Homo sapiens: one gene and its partners. The protein of the gene in region 1 interacts with the protein of each later gene in a biochemical or structural test. Each region holds a gene or a part of one and is shown on either strand. Other genes may lie near its edges.

What was found.
Region 2: the proteins of HNRNPC (region 1) and KPNA4 interact in a test that uses a peptide from one of them, tested with the Homo sapiens proteins (one study listed by BioGRID).
Region 3: the proteins of HNRNPC (region 1) and DHX9 form a complex in vitro, tested with the Homo sapiens proteins (one study listed by BioGRID).

Annotation. Positions count from the first base shown.
Region 1 is NC_000014.9:21,224,287-21,228,019, reverse strand, and holds part of HNRNPC (heterogeneous nuclear ribonucleoproteins C1/C2), read left to right. Parts: intron 1-3,733. UniProt on the Homo sapiens protein: Binds pre-mRNA and nucleates the assembly of 40S hnRNP particles. Interacts with poly-U tracts in the 3'-UTR or 5'-UTR of mRNA and modulates the stability and the level of translation of bound mRNA molecules. Single HNRNPC tetramers bind 230-240 nucleotides.
Region 2 is NC_000003.12:160,559,072-160,562,571, reverse strand, and holds part of KPNA4 (importin subunit alpha-3), read left to right. Parts: intron 1-3,500. UniProt on the Homo sapiens protein: Functions in nuclear protein import as an adapter protein for nuclear receptor KPNB1. Binds specifically and directly to substrates containing either a simple or bipartite NLS motif.
Region 3 is NC_000001.11:182,880,710-182,884,442, forward strand, and holds part of DHX9 (ATP-dependent RNA helicase A), read left to right. Parts: intron 1-554; coding exon 555-716; intron 717-810; coding exon 811-938; intron 939-2,429; coding exon 2,430-2,659; intron 2,660-2,810; coding exon 2,811-2,926; intron 2,927-3,733. UniProt on the Homo sapiens protein: Multifunctional ATP-dependent nucleic acid helicase that unwinds DNA and RNA in a 3' to 5' direction and that plays important roles in many processes, such as DNA replication, transcriptional activation, post-transcriptional RNA regulation, mRNA translation and RNA-mediated gene silencing.

The DNA of each region.
Region 1 (3,733 bases):
TTTCAGTGCTTTCTATGTGTTCTTTTGTCCAGTCAGAGTTGAGAATCATTAATAAAAGATTAAGGACGTGGTTGTGTTTCTGTGTATTATTATCCTATTTCTTTGTCATGGCTCAATTCAGACCAGTTTAATAAACTCACACTTTTGTTGGTATAATTTCAGGGATGTCATGGACTCTTAGTTGATGTTTTTTATGAGTGTATCAAGTTTTAGCAGTATACAGTGACAGTCTTCTTGAAAATAGTTCTCATTAAAAAGTCTTTTCTTGGCAAGGCACATTGTGAATGGGGAAATTTGAAAATTTGAGCAGGGAATTTGGAAAACATTAGTTGAGACAATGAGATATATACTGCAGAGAAATCTAAAGAAATCACGTTTGCAGAAATATCTTCACAGAAATTGGTGGCCTCTTCAGATTTTCAATAGACAACAATATATTAGGTTTGAGCAAAAGTAATTCCGTTTTTGACATTTCTTTGAACGGTAAAAAGCAAAACCGCAATTATTTTTGCACCAGCCGATACTAGTAGTTACTGTCGGATATATTGCTGCATGTTATTGTCAGTGAAAAGTAATGTCTTCTATTGTTCTAACGTCAGCCAGTAGATAATGATTACTGATAACTAGTGGAGCAACTAGGTAATAGCTGGCAAAGAGCTGACTTTTAGAGTACTGAGATCTTTGTTGGGAAAATGAATTTTAGGAGGTGTCCACATGATGGGAACTTACTCAAGTTGGGTTGGAGAATTGAGGAATTGAGTGTGTGTCTTACATGATAGATGTTAATGAAGGTGAAAGGAGGAGGAGTGTTTGTTTAGTGGGGAGAGGGGCAGATACAGGAGTTTTTTGCTGGTTTGGAAAATGTTAGGTCAATTTGGACCTGGGAAATAGGTTGGGTATGACCTGGTGGAATAACAACTTAGAAAAATGGTATTAATATCTTCTAAGAAGTCATTCTGAAGATTCATTATCATAAGGTTTAGATTTTTATTTTAAATGGTAACAGCGATACTTCATTGACTATGTTAAATTGTTTAATCAAAGAAGATGGGAAATTGGCTCTGAGTGAAAGCTCTGGGTCTTCATATGTAAATCGGAGTAAAAATCACTGTCCCCCCCCCCCCTTTTTTTTTTTTTTTTTGAGATGGAGTCTTTTCTGGCACTCAGGCTGGAGTGCAGTGGGTTGGTCTTGGCTTACTGCAACCTCTGCCTCCTGGGTTCAGGCGACTCTCCTGCTTCAGTCTCCCAGGTAGCTGGGATTACAGGTGTGCACCACCACACACAACTAATTTTTGTATTTTCAGTAGAGACAGTGTTTGTCCACGTTGGCCAGGCCGGTTTTGACCTCTTGACCTCAGGTGGTCCACCCGCCTGGGCTCAAGGGATCTCCCTGCCTTGGCCACGCAAAGTGCTGAGATGACATGTGTGAACCACTACGCCTGGCCCTCTTTTTAATATTCATTTGAAGGCGCTGGTTTTGTTTTGCGAAAGGTGTTGTAATAAAAGTGAATTTTTATCACAATGTTGGGAATGCACAAGTATTCAAAGCTGTAGTTGTTGAATTAAGCGAGATTGGGAAGTACTCTAAAAATAGATCTTTAAGTCCTTAGGTAGGCTGGCATATACATGAAATTGATGTTCGTCAACAGCTACCCTGGTACTATTCTTTCTTTCTTTTTTTTTTTTTTTTTTCTTTTGGAAACGAGTCTCGTGCTGTCTCCCGGGCTGGAGTGCAGTGGTGCAGATCTCGGTTCACTGCAACCTCCGCCTCCCAGGTTCTCGAGATTCTCCTGCCTCAGCCTCCTGAGTAGCTAGGATTACAGGTGCACACCACCACACCCAGCTGATTTTTTGTATTTTTAGTAGACATGGGGTTTCAGTATGTTGGCCAGACTGGTCTCAAACTCCTCACCTGACTTCATGATCCATCCACCTTGGCCTCCCAAAGTGCTGGGATTACAGGTATGAGCCACTGCACCTGGCCCAACCTGGCACTATTCTTATAATTCTTTAAAAAATTCTCATAAAAGTCTTGATCTATATGTGTTTTCTGATTTGTGCCACAAATACTGCAGTGTTTTCATACTAAAACTATATCTAGATATAAACTAGATATATTTTCTTCAGATTGTAATAAATTGGAACCCCACTTTCCCTTATAATTGATCACCCATGAAATTGTTCTCAAATTAGATAATGGTGATATTGCAGAACTAATAAAAACCACGGAGTGGCACCCTTTTAAATGGTGAATTTTATGGTATGTGAATGACGTTTTGATTGAAAATGGATGCGACATTACAATTGAAAAAGGATACATCACTGTCTTATGGACAGTCATTCTTTTTTGTCATATCTCGTGGACCCTACCTACATCAGGATACTTGCCAGTTAGAGACATAGATGAAACCCGTCTGGTGCTACCAGCCTCAAAAGGTAACTCTTACGCCTGAGGATGGACACCTTTTAGAATTAAAAGAACTCTCAGTCATTGTGGGACATCTTGCTAGCCTTCATAGAGACTGATTTACTGTCAGCTCTTTTCTTGAGTCGTCTCATCTCTCTCTGTTTTTTTTTTTCCTTTTTTTGAGACAGAGTCTTGCTCTATTGCCCAGGCTGGAGTGCAGTGGCTCGATCTCGGCTCACTGCAACCTCCACCTCCCAGGTTCAAGTAATTCTTGTGCATCATCGGCCTCCCAATTAGCTGGGGTTACAGGTGCCTGCCACCATGCGTGGCTAATTTTTTTTTTTTTGTATTGTTAGTAGAGACGGGGTTTCACCATGTTGGCCAGACTGGTCTCAAACTCCTGACCTCAGGTGATCTGCCCACCTCGCCCTCCCAAAGTGCTGGGATTACAGATGTGAGCCATCGTTCCTGGCCTCTTTAATTCTTATTTGGAGAACTTTGGGCAACACGAAATAGAAACTGCCAATAAATGGCAGGTTTGATAACAGGCTTTATTATGACAGCGGAGACTTGGTGAGCAAGAAACCTGGTTCAAAAAGACTGGTTTAGTTCAATGGTCTTTCTGAGGACTTTTTAAACTTAGCACATTTTGTATGTGGTGCATGACTAGTAATACAGTATATAAGTAACGAGTATGAAATTCTTAGAGGTTTTCAGAGTGCTGTTATTACTCCATGGCTAAATATATTAATATGTCAGTGCATTAGAAATAGACAAATCTTCAAGAACTCACAGGTCAAAGATGACACATGTAACAAAGATTGAGTTGTGAGGGGCCTTGATGTGTTTGAGGAGCAGCCAGCTGTAAAGTAAATTGTAAAGAATGTTAGTTGTAAAGGGCTTTGTATTACATGTTCTGGGATTGTGTCCTATAGATGGTATTTTAGAAACAGGCCTGTGGCTAGAGGAAAAAAGATGTGTTAAATGGTAAACATTGTAAATGTTGGAATGGAGAGGAGGTTGGGAGAATTTCTGAAGTAGATTGGTCTTGATGTGATTGGTTGGACTAAAGGTATGAAAGTAGGTGCTTGTAGGAAAATAATAGTCAAAAGCTGAGATTTTGTCTTCGTGACTAGATGATAGATTATGCCATTAATGGTTACATGAAGGGGGGTTTCACAGAGTTTGTGCTGTCAGAATTTCAAGGAGACAAGCAATTTTGCTGCTGGTTTTATTCTACCTGACTTTTCTAGGAATGTATCTTGGTAGAGAGAGAAAATTAGTTGAAATGAAACCATTGAAATTCAAGACAGAACTGTCAAACCA
Region 2 (3,500 bases), on another chromosome or scaffold:
CTTTGTGTATTTGTTACTTACATATCTGGTCTATCTCTCTAAGCACTTATCAGCCTACTTACATATATGCTGTATCTCTCTAAACACTTAATCACCCTTTAGATATGGTTACTACATTGTGTTACATAATGTCTGTAGAATACAGCAAATTCTGAGAAAATAATTGCTTTTTGATTTGGATCTTATGATGACATCTATTTCATGGGAAGTCTTCAGAAAGAAGTATGGACCAGTGAATTTAACTTAATCCAGTATATCCAAAATACCATGCAACATCTAATTTGTGTAAAATAATTGAGACGTTTCATATTATTCCTTTCATACGTTCAAAATCCAGTTTGTATTTTACGGTTATGGCATACCTCCACTTGGACTAGCTGCATTTCAAGTGCTTAATAGCCACATGTGGTTAGTGGCTACCTTATTGGAACAGCCCATGTACAGAGTATAGCATTTAGGGAGAGGTAATTGTAGCATATTATGATCTAACAGTTTATTTGATTAGAAATGATGAAGAATACAGAGTCCTAGAGTTTAGTTTAATTTGATCTCTAACTTTGTGTATGACCTTGGGGAAAATCGCTTAGTCTTATGGTTCTTTCATCTGTAAAACTAGAGGTACTTGACATCTGCTTCATGAGTGTTGTGAAGATTAATAGGTAATGTTAGGAAGATGCCTGGCAATTCTCTGAGCGTTTTATCACCTTCAGCTTTTCTTTTTGGGGGAGGGAAGGGATTTAACAAGATTCAGTATAATTGATTCTCTTACTCCCTTATTTTCAGTGGCTGTTTTTTCTCTCTGCTTGTATAACTTGTTACATTGAACAAGTAATAGGGAAAGGTTTTAATACAGAGACATGTAGCTGCTCATTGAAGGGCAGTTTAGGCACACCAAATTAGTGATCCTTTTAAAGTTGTAATTTCTGAGTGTTAGAGTTGAAAGTTATTCATAGATTTCAATCTGATATTTGTTCCTACCTCTCTCTACCATTCTGACTCCTCTAAAATGTGGTCATGTTAAGTTTCTTGAAACACAAACGCACCAAAGAAGGCATATGTTCAGTATCCATTTAAAATAATTATCAGGAACTATCAGATGATATTCACCATGGCGTGGCTGCTTCTTACAGTGTTGTAGAAGATCCCCAGTCTTAGTTTGAGAATAGTAACCATAGAAAAGAGGGTATATACAGTGCAACACAGGAAATGGGTAGTGACCAAACTTGAAATAAAAAACTTGTCAGGATAAAGTAAATTAAGCTCATATAATTTATGTTTTTTAAAGTAGAGGGGAATTTTCTTGTAGATTTCCTAATAAACCTGCATACTTTTTATGAAAGTTCTGAGTGTCTAGGTTCAAATAGAGCATAAAATATAACTAGATCTTTTAAAAACACAACTTTAAGAAAACAACTTACCCTAAATATAAAAGAATATTAAAATGCTACATAATTAGAAACTTGTGATTATCCACACAAACATAAAATATGAAGTCAGCTTGAACTTTAAAAAAAGGTGCTTGGTTGGCAAGAGTTTAATAAATTGATCAGCTGTTTTGTTGTTTTGAAAGAGCCTCAGTGATTTGTTAAAGTGTACAGAGTGAAAAGCATTGTTAAGGTATTAAGTCTTGTTAACTTTTAGAGACTGATCTCTCTCACCACAAATCTTGGAACATATTTACTATACTTAAAATAACTACTGTCTAATTTTTCACATAATAGTCCAAGCATGTGACAATATGAAATATCTGATAGAAATATAGTTAGGAATTAAATGACTGTTTCTGTACTTCTTGCCAACTTTCCTGGTTTACAAGGTAGCCAGTTTGAGAATTGCTTCATTGATAGTTTTCCTGGAGATACCAAGATGCCCTTATTTTTCGTAGTCACTAAGTATGTCAAATGAATGTACAAGATTGGGAAGAATTGTAGGAGTGATTTAGATTTCAAAGAATGAAGCTACTTTAGAAAAAAAAATGCAAAGGTAGTTTTTAAACATTGATTTCTAATACCTGATAGTGGTTGTGGGTCCTTAAAATATTTTTAAATGTTTTCTGGAGTAGCATTCATCTATTTGAGGCCTATAATGATGAATGAAACAAGAGCATGTCATCAGATTTAACCTTGATCTCTGATTTTGGTACTTACTCGCTGATTTAGTTTTGGAACAGAAAAGAGGAATATGACTGAAGGGAACTTTCTGAGCACCTACTGTATATGCTTTTAACTGTATTCACATTTCTCTCAATCTTATACATATTGAATTTATTTTAAAGAAGAAATTTTAAAGAAGAAACTCTTGTGCTTTTGATTTAATAAGATAACATTTAAGGGAATGATTTTAATTCAGGTGTGTCAGAGTCTGTTCTTTTTGTACTTTACCATATTTCCTCCATTTGACTTCTTTCAGCCTTAATGCCAGTCTCAAATTTGATGAAAAGGTTCTATGTGAAAGCACTGAGCATAGTCCACGGGGTATAATAGGTATTCAGTAAATGTTTTCTTTTTTTCTCAGAGGGTTTTTGGAAATTGTGGGTCACTTGTAGACTTTCAAACACTAGAAAACACAGTTTGTTTTCTGTGCTTTTCATTTAGGTTTGGTAAAAGACAGGGTTGGAGTTCTTCCTTTTTCTGTGGTTAATATGAGAACTGTATATTGATATCTATAAAATAAGGACATTTTTCAAAACCAAAAATACATAATGAGAAGAATGGCCATGTTGAACCTTTTTTTCGGGTCTTAATGTTTGGCTTAAGACAGCTGAATTCTCATCTGTTTCTGCATTCAGTCTTTTGTGATACACTGTTTTGGTCGAAGTGTGTGAAGAATGTCCACCTTCACACAGACAGACAGTTGAAAAAGGAAAGTATGTTATGTTTTCATAGGCTTTTCAGGATAATTATGGAGATTAAGTGATACTACACCGTAATTCTGCAAGAGGTAGTTTCTTAAAGATAGTTGCAATGTAGAATCTGAAGCCACATGAGTGAACTTTTCTTACACTGTTACATTAAAATCTATTGGTCTGTCTTGCACTTCAGATGTAACATTTACCCATCTTTTACTGATGCTTTTTGTAATACCATGCATTGGATTATTTGGAAAACATTATGTCACTGAGTTATGCACGTCTTCCAAATGCTAACATATTTTATTCAATAAAAAATTCATGATTGTTAACCACACAATTCAGAAAAATCTTAAGTATTGAGAATCTGTCAGGTTCACAGAAGTGGATACAAGTTTTCTAAAATTCTAACTTTCTCTGGGAAGCTCAATTTTTTTTTCTTTTTTTACCATGCCTCTGGGACAAGTTCAGAGGAAGCTGAAATTTTATCATTAGCAATAAATGCTATAAATGGTTATCGTTGAAGCCATAGACTCACTTTGCTCATTTTTGTGAAAACATCTTCCAACCATTAAGTCTGAATAACCATAATTTGTCTGTCAGTCGTTTTTTCAAGTAAAAATAGTGTTCCATGAAAAAAGTGGCTAGGTCA
Region 3 (3,733 bases), on another chromosome or scaffold:
TCCTAAATGTTCTTCAGGGAAGTAACATACCTAGATATTGAGAGCAGTGTAACACTAAAAAAATGAACAGTTCCAGTAGGTGGATATCTGGGCCCAATATGGGGAAAAGGGCACTGATTTCTCAAAAGTTAAAAGCAAGCAGGCCAGGCAATGTGGCTCACACCTTGAATCCTAGCACTTTGGGAGGCCAGGGTGGGAGGGTCCCTTGTTATTAATAGTTGGTCTTGAAAGAGCGGTGTCAGGAAAAGAGGTTTATTTTATCAGAAAATGTTGAAGATTAAGAGATTTGGTATGATGGGGAAGAGAGAATATAAAAGGAAAAATATACTTGGTCATAATTTATGATAAATATGTGGCCATTAGAGCATCAGAGCATTTTTTTCTTTCTGATTCTGAAGAGAGCAGCTATAAAGTTCTTTGTTAAGCCAGTTTCATTGCAAATAAAAGTAGAATCATAGCCATAAAGACTGCAACCCACAGTCGACAGTCCTACCTGAGCTGCTGGCAACAACATTGTGATCTAGTCTGGATTTAACTGTCTTTGTGTATTTCAGCGTGGGAGATGCTATCTGTACCATTGCTGCTGCTACCTGCTTTCCAGAGCCTTTCATCAATGAAGGAAAGCGGCTGGGCTATATCCATCGAAATTTTGCTGGAAACAGATTTTCTGATCACGTAGCCCTTTTATCAGTATTCCAAGCCTGGGATGATGCTAGGTATGAGTAAGATTTGGGTGAGCTGTCTGTAGTTTCTCATTTGTATTTAGTTCTCTGGTCTTAGAGAATGATTTCTCATGCCAATTTATTTTAGAATGGGTGGAGAAGAAGCAGAGATACGTTTTTGTGAGCACAAAAGACTTAATATGGCTACACTAAGAATGACTTGGGAAGCCAAAGTTCAGCTCAAAGAGATTTTGATTAATTCTGGGTTTCCAGAAGGTAAGACTTCTTCCATTCTTAAGATATCTTTAAAGTGACATTTATATAGTACATGCAAATTGACAGCAAAGTGTATTTTAGTTTCAAATTTTAGACCCTATGATTTTTATATATTCCCGACTATTTCTTAGTTCTCGTGAACACTGGTCTAGTTCCCAGAATGAGTACTTTGCTGATAACCTTATAGTGGTTTGCAAAGTAATTTATTAGCATTTAGACTTGAAGTAAATTCTACCACATTAAATTTTAAATGACTTTAATTTATACTTTCGGTGTACAGATGATTAAAGGACTTTATGACATCTAACATAGAAAAAAACCAACCCATGTTTCTTGATGAGCTGTAGTACTTTTCTTTTCCAACTAGGTTAAAATATAGAATTACTTCCTAAAACATTGAGAACTGGAATGCATAACCAGAAATAAGACTGTTGAGAGACAGAAGGTAGTTGGGCAAGATGGTAAATTTTTAAAGGCTGTAATTGGAATAACTAAACAAAGTAGTGAGTGGTTCTCTTCTGTCATAAGCCAGCCGAAATTTTAGTTTTTCCTCAAAATTATAAGAAAGGGAAAACTTCATGTGCTAGAATCTTGAGATGAATTTTACAGGTAATGAAACAGGCACCAAGGTATAAATTGTCTTTAATTCATCCAATTAGGAGGCTATAAGACTAGAACTCGTTTGTCTAGAACAAAATATGTCTGTGCTTTCAGCGGTTGACTGTCATGCTTTCCAGTCAGTAGCTAAGTACTCAAAGTGTAGACTGGGTAAAAACGTCAGCCTTCATTCCAGTAGGTGTCCTCTTAGATTATCTCCATCTTCTCTACAACTAACAGCTATTTAAGAGTAGCAGATAAATACTTTGTGGTCCTATCAGTCAAGCTCTTATTCTCAGAGTAGATGGTTGATTGGGGGACTTTAAAAAGTAATCACCCCGGCCGGGCGCAGTGGCTCACACCTGTAATCCCAGCGCTTTGGGAGGCCGAGTCAGGTGGATCACGAGGTCAGGAGATCGAGACCATCCTGGCTAACACGGTGAAACCCGTCTCTACTAAAACTACAAAAAATTAGCCGGGCGTGGTGGCGGGTGCCTGTAGTCCCAGCTACTTGGGAGGCTGAGGCAGGAGAATGGCATGAACCCGGGAGGCAGAGCTTGCAGTGAGCAGAGATGGCGCCACTGCACTCCAGCCTGGGCGACAGAGCGAGACTCGTCTCAAAAAAAAAAAAAAAAAGTAATCACCCCAAGCTTATTTATGGTTGAGTCTATAAGAGAATAGAGACGTTTTCGTTTTCTTATTGTGGAAACTCAGTAACATTACTCCTTGAACTTAATCTGGGTGTAAGGATTCTGAGAAGAGAAAGTTTTACAGACAGGTTATGTGAAAAGAGTGAGGAAGAGTCAGTTCTCTGAATTATCTTAAATAGTTTGCATGTAATGTGAAGATCAGCCAGTTATCTGATTTTTGTTTTCACTGTGCTCCTCTTAACAGATTGTTTGTTGACACAAGTGTTTACTAACACTGGACCAGATAATAATTTGGATGTTGTTATCTCCCTCCTGGCCTTTGGTGTGTACCCCAATGTATGCTATCATAAGGAAAAGAGGAAGATTCTCACCACTGAAGGGCGTAATGCACTTATCCACAAATCATCTGTTAATTGTCCTTTTAGTAGCCAAGACATGAAGTACCCATCTCCCTTCTTTGTATTTGGTGAAAAGGTAAGAAAAGACTAGAAAAGTTTACATTGAAAGTTGAAATTGTCTTTACAATCATTAGGAACATGAATTTTGATTTTCAAAGCACAGTATATAGCGGTATTTGGAAGTTGGAATGTCAACCATTTTGTATTGTCTCTTTCTCCATTTGCAGATTCGAACTCGAGCCATCTCTGCTAAAGGCATGACTTTAGTCACCCCCCTGCAGTTGCTTCTCTTTGCCTCCAAGAAAGTCCAATCTGATGGGCAGATTGTGCTTGTAGATGACTGGTATGGATTTTCAGATGTGAACTCCAAACTGAATTCTTAGAATTACAATATGATGGAATTCAGCTGCTAATCTAACTTAATTATATACTAATTATATCTAACTTAATTATATACTATATACTTAATCTTAAATTGATACCAGTAGAAGCAAATGCATTAGGAATTTGAGCCATGTCTACCACTAGGCACACCACCACTATGGAATCAGAATCTAAGTGAAGCTTGAGTACCCTTTCACATACTCTGTATATTGATTCAAAACTAGTGGTAAGCACTGGGCAAAAATGGAATAGAGCTTAATGGACAGCCAGTAGGCTCAGCCATCATATTCTTGAAAACCTAGAAAATGCCAGTATTCTGGGTCTCTTAAATTCATTATTTTAAAGTCTGGATGATCTGGCTGGGTGCGGCACATCACTTGGGCTCAGGAAGTTCAAGATCAGCCTGGACAACATGGTGAAACCTGTCTCTACGAAAAATCCAAAAAAATTAGCCCCGTGTGGTAGCGCACACCTGTAGTCCCAGCTATTCTGGAGGCTGAGGCAGGAGAATCACTTGAACCTGGGAGTTGGAGGTTGCAATGAGCTATCACGCCACTGCACTCCAGCGAGGGCAACAGAGCAAGACTCTGTCTCAAAAAAAAAGAAAGTCTGAATGATCCATATTGCTGGACTTTGTTTTTTGTTTATTATATATTGCATATATTTTTATTATATTTTATTTGGCTTGATAGACTTTTTGGCTTAAGACTCCTGCTCATAGCTAGCAGTGAATTTTAAGAAGCTAGTGCTGATTATAACTACTCTT